Homo sapiens: one gene and its partners. The protein of the gene in region 1 purifies or fractionates together with the protein of each later gene. This does not show direct contact. Each region holds a gene or a part of one and is shown on either strand. Other genes may lie near its edges. The genes, in order: CT45A5, TRIM26 and PPP4R3B.

Evidence for each region.
Region 2: the proteins of CT45A5 (region 1) and TRIM26 purify together in Homo sapiens (affinity purification with mass spectrometry, with the first as the bait; one large-scale study listed by BioGRID). This does not show direct contact.
Region 3: the proteins of CT45A5 (region 1) and PPP4R3B purify together in Homo sapiens (affinity purification with mass spectrometry, with the first as the bait; one large-scale study listed by BioGRID). This does not show direct contact.

The regions. Positions count from the first base shown.
Region 1 is NC_000023.11:135,775,366-135,779,019, forward strand, and holds the end of CT45A5 (cancer/testis antigen family 45 member A5), read right to left. Parts: intron 3,647-3,654; coding exon 3,553-3,646; intron 2,329-3,552; coding exon 2,271-2,328; 3' UTR 487-2,270; downstream 1-486.
Region 2 is NC_000006.12:30,203,381-30,207,034, forward strand, and holds part of TRIM26 (tripartite motif-containing protein 26), read right to left. Parts: intron 1,386-3,654; 5' UTR 1,276-1,385; intron 1-1,275.
Region 3 is NC_000002.12:55,607,501-55,611,154, reverse strand, and holds part of PPP4R3B (serine/threonine-protein phosphatase 4 regulatory subunit 3B), read left to right. Parts: intron 1-3,654. UniProt on the Homo sapiens protein: Regulatory subunit of serine/threonine-protein phosphatase 4 (PP4). May regulate the activity of PPP4C at centrosomal microtubule organizing centers.

The DNA of each region.
Region 1 (3,654 bases):
CCATCAGAGTGAACAGGCAACCTACAGAATGGGAGGAAATTTTTGCAGTCTACTCATCTGACAAAGGGCTAATATCCAGAATCTACAACGAACTCAAACAAATTTACAAGAAAAAAACAAACAACCCCATCAACAAGCGGGCGAAGGATATGAACAGATACTTCTCAAAAGAAGACATTTATGCAGCCAACAGACACATGAAAACATGCTCATCATCACTGGCCATCAGATAAATGCAAATCAAAACCACAATGAGATACCATCTCACACCAGTTAGAATGGCAATCATTAAAAAGTCAGGAAACAACAGGTGCTGGAGAGGATGTGGACAAATAGGAACACTTTTACACTGTTGGTGGGACTGTAAACTAGTTCAACCATTGTGGAAGTCAGTGTGGCGATTCCTCAGGGATCTAGAACTAGAAATACCATTTGACCCAGCCATCCCATTACTGAGTATATACCCAAAGGATTATAAAACATGGTGCTATAAAGACACATGCACACGTATGTTTATTGTGGCACTATTCACAATAGCAAAGACTTGGAACCAACCCAAATGTCCAACAATGATAGACTGGATTAAGAAAACGTGGCACATATACACCATGGAATACTATGCAGCCATGAAAAATGATGAGTTCATGTCCTTTGTAGGGACATGGATGAAGCTGGAAACCATCATTCTCAGCAAACTATCGCAAGGACAAAAAACCAAACACCGCATGTTCTCCCTCATAGGTGGGAACTGAACAATGAGAACACATGGACACAGGAAGGGGAACATCACACACTGGGTCCTGTTGTGGGGTGTGGGGAGGGGGGAGGGATAGCATTAGGAGATATACCTAATGTTAAATGATGAGTTAATGGGTGCAGCACACAAAAATGGCACATGTATACATATGTAACAAACCTGCACGTTGTGCACATGTACCCTAAACCTTAAAGTATAATAAAAAAAAGTACCTGGCACAATTAATATTTGTTGAATAATTGAATGAATTAATTTTTTTAAAAAAAGCATAGAATGGGCTGGGTGCAGTGGCTCATGCCTGTAATCCTAGAACCTTGGGAGGCTGAGATGGGCAGATCACTTGAGGCCAGGTTTCGAGACCAGCCTGGACAACATGGCAAAACCCCATCTCCACTAAAAATACAAAAATTGCAGCGTGATGGCACCTGTGGTGCACCTGTAATCCCAGCTACTTCGAAGGCTGAAGCACAAGGATCGCTTGAACTGGGGTGAGGTCGAGGTGGCAGTGACTTGTGATCGTGTCACCGCACTCTAGCCTGGGCAACAGAGCAAGATTCTGTCTTTAAAAAAAATAAAAAGCATAGAACGTTCAAGTCGTATCTGGAAACAACAGCCTTACAGGGACTGCTACTGCAGCTCCAAATTATTGTATCAGACCAATCCTATCTAGGAACTACCTTTATTATATATATTGGATATACCCCCCCACACACGCATACATATATATATATGGGGGTGTATATATAATATGTGTAATGTGTATTATATGTATAATGGGAGATTAGAAAGTGTGTGTGTGCATGTATATATACCCCCTACCAACACACACACACACACACACACACACACACACACACACACACATTAAAATCTCCCATTAGTTCTGCCTTTTCGTTGAAGGCTGATGATACAGATTTCAACATTGAGATCGGGTTCCCACCACACGAGGGGCTAAGGAAGAGTATGTGTGATATGTCTAGAGAGCTTCTTAGTCCTCCTGTGTTTTTCGATTAGAGTTAATGGAAAATCACAGCAACCCCATCCAGGCAGGATATCTAATGGTTCAGACTCTTCCGTAATGAAGGTTTGAGTCATCCTGCCAGGCCAAGCATCATGACCAACTGACATGCTATCTCAGGGCAAAGGGAATGCGAAACGGGTAGCGAAAGAAGGTAGTTATAAACGCCAGCTACATCAGTGTGAGCTGCTGCAGAAACCACGACTGTAATAGTATTTACCTAATGGGTTAATAATATCTACCAGCACAGGTGGGAATACAAAATAACCAAAACACAAGTTATCCTTTCAAATAAAACGCTTTGGGAAAAAGAACATCTTTTACTAACAGAAATTTCTTAGCCTCTGGAAGGCCAGTTGATTCGGTAACATATGCCAGGAGACTTCAGCAATATCCTGCTCCATTGTAGAAAACAGCAATCTGATCCTTTTCTCTCCTCAATCATTAACGAGATTATGCATTTGGGGTGTGATAATCCTCCAGGGACAAGTATTCTCAAATCATACGTTTCAGTTTCTTCTTAAGGTGCTTAACAAAGTCTCGTCTCATACATCTGAAGAGAAAGAGACATGTCATTAACCAAAAGATAGCCAAAGAACCTATGCTGTAGGAAGCGCTGTGACAGATAGAAAGATGAAGTAACAGTCAGCATGGAAATAGAAATGTATCTGCATGGTAAGAGGCAGTCTAGCCGGCATAACAAATGCTGGCAAGGGTGTGGAGAAAAGGGAACCTTCATACACTGTTGGTGAGAATATAAATTACTACAACAACTAACTATGAAGAACAGTTTGGAGGTTCCTCAAACAACTAAAAATGGAGCTATCATATGATCCAGCAATCCCACTGCTGGGTATATACCCAAGAGAAAGGAAGTCAGTGTACCGAACAGATATCTGCACTCCCATGTTTGTTGCAGCACCATCCACAGTAGCCAAGATTTGGAAGCAACCTAAGTGTCCACTAACACATGAATGGGTAAAGAAAATATGGTACATATACACCACAGAGTACTGTTTAGCCATAAAAAAAAGAATGAGATTCAGTCATTTGCAACAACACGGATAGAACCGAAGGTCCTTATGTTAAGTGAAATAAGCCAGGCACAGAAAGACAAACTTCACATGTTCTCACTTATTTTTGGGAGTAAAAGTGTAAAACAACTGAACTAATGGAGATAGAGAGTAGAATGACAGTTACCAGAGGCTACAAAGGTTAGTGGGGGTGGAGGGTGTGGGAAGTGGGGATGATTAATACGTAGAAGTATGGAATAAATAAGATGTCGTATTTCATAGCCAAACAGGGTGACTATAGTCGGTAATAATTTAATTGCACATTTAAAAATAATGAAGAGTATAATTGTATTCTCTGTAACGCAAAGGATAAAAGCTTGAGGTGATAGAAACCCCACTTACCTTGATGTGATTATTACACATTGTTGTCTGTATCACAATATCTCATATAGCCCAGAAATATATGCATCTGCTATGTGCCTACACAAATTTTTTAAAAAGAGGTAGTCTAGCAAATACAAAGAGTGTCAATTGAGGGACAATGCGCACCTCAGACTATGGTGAAAATGGAAGTCTCCATAGTCTTCGAAGAATGAGTTACACTCAGATAACATTAGCCTAAGTAACTGTGGAGACAGCCATAACTGTGAGTGAGGACCAGGGTTTGAGAAACGCAAGGCAGGGGCTGTTCCCCAACGCTCACCCCCAGTGCTCTATTGAGCCCAAGTGCTTAAAGAAATTGGACAGTTCCTATTTCTACCCACCTTGCTGCTTCCTTGATGATGGATTCAAAAAATCGCTTCCTGACTGCAGTAGGTCCTTGCACTCCTTCAAGCATTTCGAAGATTTTTTCATATTCTGAAGAT
Region 2 (3,654 bases), on another chromosome or scaffold:
GTATGAGAATGCCTATACTTCTTATTTATTTATTAATATATTTATTTATTTTTGAGATGGAGTTTTTCTCTTGTTGCCCAGGCTGGAGTGCAATGGCGCAATCTGGCTCACTACAACCTTCGCTTGCCAGGTTCAAGCGATTCTCCTGCCTCAGCCTCCCTAGTAGCTGGGATTACAGGTGCCCACCACCACATCCGGCTAATTTTTTGTAGTTTTAGTAGAGACGGGGTTTCACCAGGTTGGCCAGGCTGGTCTCAAACTCCTGACCTCAGGTGATCCACCTGCCTTGGCTTCCCAAAGTGCTGGGATTACAGGTGTGAGCCACCGCGCCCGGCTGAGAATACCTGTATTTCTAGGCAATGGATGCTGTAGTATTTAGAGCTCCATGTCTCCCACCTAATTTGAAATGGTTCCTTTCTTTTTTTTTTTTTTGAGACAGGGTCTTACTCTGTCCCCCGAGTGCAGTGGAACTATCTTGGCTCACTGCAAAGCAAAATAAAAAGCTAGAAAAGTTTTCTGGGGAGGGAGCTACAGTTTTCTATCACATTCTTAAAGAGGTCTGTAGTAACCATCAAAAATGGTTAAATCACTGATACAGAGATCATGGTGCTTGACACCTTGTAGAAGCTCAATACACATTTACTGAACAAGTGAATGGATTCAGGGGAATTGCAGACAATGTTAGTTGTATAGAACCATTTGTTTTTGAGAGTCTGCCATAACCAGATAAATGAAACACAGTACCACTTCTATGACCAATCCCTTCCCTTGCTTATACAGACTCCTTCTGAGGAAACTGAGGCTCAGCAGGGTTAAGCAACTTGCCCAAGAGCACATGGCTAGGAAGCAGTGTCTGGTGCCAAGGCCTCTGCTCAATCCACTACACTCTCTTCCCTACCCAGGCACACTGTAAAATGGGGTCTAATACCAGCTCCTTTGTTAGGAAGCTCAGATGAGGTCATCTACATGGAAGGGCTTTGTAAGCGGAGTAATGCTGACAAAAGAAAGGGGGCATATATTCTGCTGATACTGACCAAAAGCACCCTAGCCTTAGCTATGACAAACTTTCACATATGGGGTGAGCAATAAAGTGTCCCTGTTGGACAGTAGTTTTCCTTCTTAGTGATAGAGGATCTCAAGATTTCAGAATTAGGAGAAATGAGGTTGAGTATGAGAGATGTGAGCAGACCAGAATAACCGCTCCCCTTCCCCATACACAATTCTGTCAGGTCCAATGCAAAATTCACCCTCTCCAAAAACTCTTCCCCAACTTACCGCACCCTGCTATGGTTCTGCCCTTTTATGCCGTCAGTATATTCTCTGTGATCTCAACAGGTTTCCACAATAAGAGGTAAAACCATTACCCTTCTCTCCATTCCTGACTCCTGGGCAGACAGAAACCAAAATCAGAGCCAAAAAAAAAAAACCTCAGAGATGACCCACTCCACCCCCACTCCCTTTACTCAGATGAGAATTCTGAACCTGAAGAAGTCACTTCATGAACTCCCTTGCACCAGAGGTCACACATCCCTGCTGGGGGTGAGGGGGTATTTTTCTGTCTCTTCAATAAACCAGAAGCGGCCGGGCGCGGTGGCTTCTGCCTGTAATCCTAGCACTCTGGGAGGCAGAGGCGGGTGGATCACCTGAGATCGGGAGTTTGAGACCAGCCTGACCAACAAGGAGAAACCCCATCTCTACTAACAATACAAAATTAGCCAGGTGTGGTGGCGCATGCCTATAATCCCAGCTACTGGGCAGGCTGAGGCAGGAGAATCGCTTGAACCCAGGAGGCGGAGGTTGCAGTGAGCTGAGATCACGCCAATTGCACTCCAGCCTGGGCAACAAGAGCAAAACTCCATCTCAAAAAATAAAAATGAAAAAATAAACCAGAAGCTAGCTGCAATTCTATAGAACCAGGAAGATGCAACAAACAAGCCCTGCAATGTCCTGGTACCCTCCTCACAGGCAGAACTGCAGACACTCCCTACCTTTCTCTAAGAGGTTCCCTTTTCCCTGAAATCCACCCCTCCCCTATAAGTCTCTGGATCTCATAAATACCTAATCTGCATATGTCAACAGACTGGTCAAGGTGACACCATGTAATTTCAAGATGTGGATGCATGCACGATTATTGGCTCCAAGAATAATCACTATGAGCTACAAAAACTAGCTGAAAGCCGGGCACGGGGGCTTGTGCCTGTAATTCCAGCACTGTGGGAGGCTAAGGCAGGAGGACTGCCTGAGCCCAGGAGTTTGAGACCAGCCTGGGTAATATAGTGAGACATTGTCTCCAAAAAAAGAAATTAGCTGAATTAGCTGGGTGCGATGGCACATGCCTATAGTTCCAGCTACTTAGGAAGTTGAGGCAGGAGGATCTCCCGAGCCCGGGAAGTTGAGGCTGCAGACAGCCATGACTGCGCCACTGCACTCCAGCCTGGGTGAAACTCTGGCCTGCCTCCGGCTCCTAGATGCCACCCAGAGAGGTGCCCTGGTAGACAGTGAATCCCAAATGTGGACTCTGGGGCCCAAGAAAGTAAATGGAGAGGCCTGGGTTTTCATCCTGGCCTCCAGGGTACCAGTTCAGGCCTCTCTTGAGTATCCCAAGCTGCTTCTCAAGCATATGTCTGGACCTCCAAACAAGAGCAAAGCACCTGTAATCCCAAAGCACTTAGCCTAGAGCTCCATTCCCTGTGGGTACTCCATTTAAGGGCTCCTGGGTCCCAGATTAATCCCCATATTTTAATCTGAGATAAGCAAACTCTCCATGGGGTAAACTTCCGTGAGACACCTCTAACAAACCTGGAGAGGCCAGAATTCGGGGCAAAAAGCAAGTGATCTGGATGTGCATACTAGGAGTGACTGCACCCCTACTGGCCAGGCCAAAGGCCTGGATCCCAGGCTGTCCCAGGAGATCCCAGTGACTGTGGATGATGCGTTCTTGTGGTCACACTTGGCTTACTTTCCCCACGGAGCCGAGCATCAGTGGTGCTCTGAAGCACAGTGCAGGCCACAAAAACTACCAGGGCTCTGAACGCTAGAAATCCCCACAGGGCTCAAAGAGGGGCAGGAGGTAGCAGCCAGCTGGGAGGTGGATGAGACAAGGCGTTAAATTGCCCTGGTCTTGTGGCTGACCCACAGGGGAAAATTGAGGGTTCTTCATATTTGTGCCAGAATATCTGTCTAATGTTGAATCATGAACCAAGCTCTCTTGTCTAAAATATTCCTAAGTGTCACTTGGTGCTTTGCACCAAATATAGGAAGGAATCCTTTATCATCTTGTGGAATGGTTCAAACCTTGACTACACATCAGATTTGTAGTCTTCAAACTGGTGAGTCTTCAAAACATACCTAGACCAACTGACTTAGGATCTCCAGAGGTGGCCCAGGCTCTGGTATTAAAAAACAAACTTCCCAGGAGATTCTAAAGTCTATCCAGGACTGTGAATCACTAGAACCCCTTATTTACAGAGGAGGACAGTGAGTGCCAGAGCCTCGGACTCATTTGCCCAGCAGCAGAGCTGGCTGGCAGCAAGGCCAGCACTAGCACGAGGTGGGGTGAGGTGCACCTCCCAGCTCTGGGCTCCTTCCATTCCACCATACACTGCACTTTGGTGCCTGGAAAATGAACTCTTCCCTGCCCATATGGAGTGCTGT
Region 3 (3,654 bases), on another chromosome or scaffold:
CACAGTGGCTCACACTTGTAATCTCAACACTTTGGGAGGCTGAGGCAGGAGGATCACTTTAGTCCAGGAGTTCAAGACCAGCCTGGGCAACATACTGAGACTCTCACTGCAAAAAATATAAATTAGCTGGGCATGGTGACACACACCTGTAGTCCCAGCTGCTTGGGAATCTGAGGTGGGAGAATTGCTTGAGCCCAGGAGGTCAGTGCTTCAGTGAGCTGTTACTGTGCTACCGCACTCCAGCCTGGGCGATAGAGGAAGACTCTCTCAAAAAAAAAAAAAAAACCAGAGTCATAAGAATGTGTACCTATTTAACACAATTGTGTGTTAATTGGGTTTAAGAAAATCCTCATTGCAGTTTTATTTGGAGGCAGGATGTAACAGATGAAACAGATAAAGAATGATAATAAGATAGCTTATAACAGTGTTTTACCACAGTCTTCACTGAAAGCCCGTGAAAGCATTTCACACATGAGGCAACAAAGGTACAGAAAGGGTAAGATTCTTGACTGAGATTATACAGCAGGTATGTGCCAACACAAAATATAAAAAGTAAACTTGCATTTTCCACAGACTTAGAGCAGTAGAAAATTAAGGAAGAGGTTAATATAAGCTGGAATCATTAAGAAAAACTTCATTCTTGGTGGTGGTAGTGGAAGGAACTGTGATAGGAAAGGAAATACACTTGCTACAAAAGGTATTAAGCCTATTTGTAGCAGTGGTTTCTCCCCCTCCTACCACCAATCCCAAATATGATAATACACAGGTTCAGAAGGGGACATTACAGGTTCTTGAGTAGGGGCCTAAAGTGATACTGTGTTTAAAGAAATGAGTGTGGCAATGTCATGAATAATAAATTGGGGAGGAGGGATAGGGTGGAGCAGAAGATCTTTGAGTAGCAAGACCTTTTGCAATAATTCAGATACAAAAAATGAAAGTCTATTCCACCACGGTAAATGGACTTGAAGGAACAGAGCTCCAGTATATTTTCCAGAAAGTGCTGGAAAATTTAGTAAATGATTAAATATTAAAGAGAAGGAATCAAAGGTCACTGATAGTGTTTTTGAGTCTGGCCAGGAAGGTGATGGTTCTTTCCAGAAAGTGGGAAGTTAAGCAGGTTTACATTAATCTTTTGGTTTGAGGCTTATTAAAAAAAATTTTTTTTAGTGTGTAATATATTAGCCCAGTTAAAAATTCAAAAGGTATTTATTGAAGTCTCTTTCCCACGCCAGATTCTGTCCGTACAGTTTCCCTTGCTAGAGGCCACTGACATCACCAGTTTCTTATATATCTTGCTGGAGGTATGCATATGTAAGCAAATATGCATACAATTGTATGTATTTTTTCCCTTTTATTGGTATAACTGGTAGCATACTGTATACTGTTTTGTGCTTTGCTTTTTTTTTCTTTTCCATCCGGGCTTTGAAGTTACATACAGTAAAATAAATGGAAAGAGTTTTTTTGTTTTTTTTGTTTTTTTTTTTTTTGAGACACAGTCTTGCTTTGTTGCCGAGGCTGGAGTGCAGTGGCGTGATCATGGCTTACTGCAGCTTTAACTTCCTGCGCTCAGGCTCCCACCTCAGCCTCCTGAGTAGCTGGGACTGTAGGTGTGCACACCATGCCTGGCTAATTTTTTGTAGATATGGGATTATGCCATGTTGCTCAGGCTGGTCTTGAACTCCTGAGCTCAAGCAGCCCACCTATCTTGGCCTTCCAAAGTGCTGGGAATACAGACATGAGTCGTCACACCCAGCCCATGAAAAGGTCTTAAAATGAACATCTGGGAATAGAGATAGGGTGAGACTTTCCGGCAGGAGATTCTAATTTAAGAATCATAAAAGGCCTAGCATGCCAGTAGTAGTCCCAGCTTTTCGGGGCTGAGGCAGGAGGATCACTTGAGACCAGGAGTTTGAGGCTATAGTTCGTGATGATCACACCTGTGAATAGCCAACTGCACTCCAGCCTTTTAAAAAAAAAAATCAGATGAATTATGAATTTTTAGCTACAAGGTAACCTCCTTTGAGGTAATAGCTATAAATTGAGAAAAGAACAGAGCTCAAGACTGAGTCTTGTTGATCTGACCACATATATTCATTCATCCAGAAATACCTCATCGAGTGCTGCTTCTGGCTGGTCACTATCTTTTCGTTTGGAATTTTTTTGGAGGCAGGGCGGTGGTTTTGAGATGAGACTGTCTCCCAGCCAAAAGCACGGTGGCATGATTAAGTCTCACGCAGCCTTGACCTCCTAGGTGCGATCCTCCCACCTCAGCCTTCTGAGTAGCTGGGACTGCAGGCGCATACCACCATACCTGGCTAATTTTTTTAATGTTTAGTAGAGATGAGGTCTCACTATGATGCCCAGGCTGGTTTCAAACTCCTGCGCTTAACAATTCTCCCTCTTTGGGCTCCAAAAGTGCTGGGATTACAGGCATGAGCCTCCATATCCAGCCAAGTTGGGATTTTTAAAGTAAGCTTTTGAAGAGTTTATGCAAAGTGATGACATGATCCAAAATACTTAATAGTATCAATCTGTGGAATTGAAGAGAAGCAATAAGTGGGAAACTCATTGGGAGATTGCTGCATAGTCCAAGCAAAAGATAATGTTGGATTGGATTGAGGTGATAGAGATGGACAGAGATGGATGGATTTTGTGATCTTTATTGAAGGTAGAATTGACAGGGCATGTGATGGATCAGTTATTGGTAATCAGGAAGAAGAAAGATCAGTAACCGTTGACTGTTTCCCAGGGTCAGTCCTCAGCATTGGAAAAGAACTCTAAATATAAACCCCATTTAGTTTCTGGTATTTTGACAAGATCAGAGAAAAGAATTTAAAGTTAAGAATGAGGGGCTGGGTGCAGTGGCTCCCACCTGTAATCCCAGCACTTTGGGAGCCCAAGGCTGGCAGATCACCTGAGGTCGGGGGTTCAAGACCAGCCTGGCCAACATGGTGAAACCCTGTCTCTACTAAAAATACAAAAATTAATCCGGTGTGGTGGCACACGCCTGTAATCCCAGCTACTCAGGAGGCTGAGGCAGGAGAATCACTTGAACCCAGAGGTGGAGGTTGCAGTGAGCCAAGATTGCACCACTGCATTCCAACCTGGGCAACAGAGTGAGACTCTGTATCAAAAAAAAGAAGAGCAAAAGAAAGTGATGATGAAAAGGTGCTCAGTTACCTTAATTCAGATTTCGTTGTTTACCTGGACCTTCTCTTTCAATGTTTACCTGGACCAAACATTGATTGTAGCCAAAATGGAAAAGGCATTGGATGGCTGGATAAAGGGTTTTGGATTTCATTCTGTTAGTAATATCCATTGACCTGACTGTAGATAGTACTATCTATAGATCTAGTCACCAGAAGGACCAAGGCATGGTTAGAAGATTGCGGCTTTGAACCCCATCCGCCATCCTCCAGAAGGGGAGAGGGGCTGAGGGTTTATTAATCACCAGTCGCCAGTGATTTACTTAATTATACCTGTTTAATGAAGCCTCCATAAAAGCCCATTAGGACTGGGTTTGGAGAGCTCCCAGATAACTAAGTGGAAGTTCCTGGAGGATGATGTGCCCAGGGAGGTAATGCAACCTTTGAGCCTCTTACCCCATACCTTGCTCTGTACCTCTCTTCATTTGTATCCTTTAAAATATCCTTT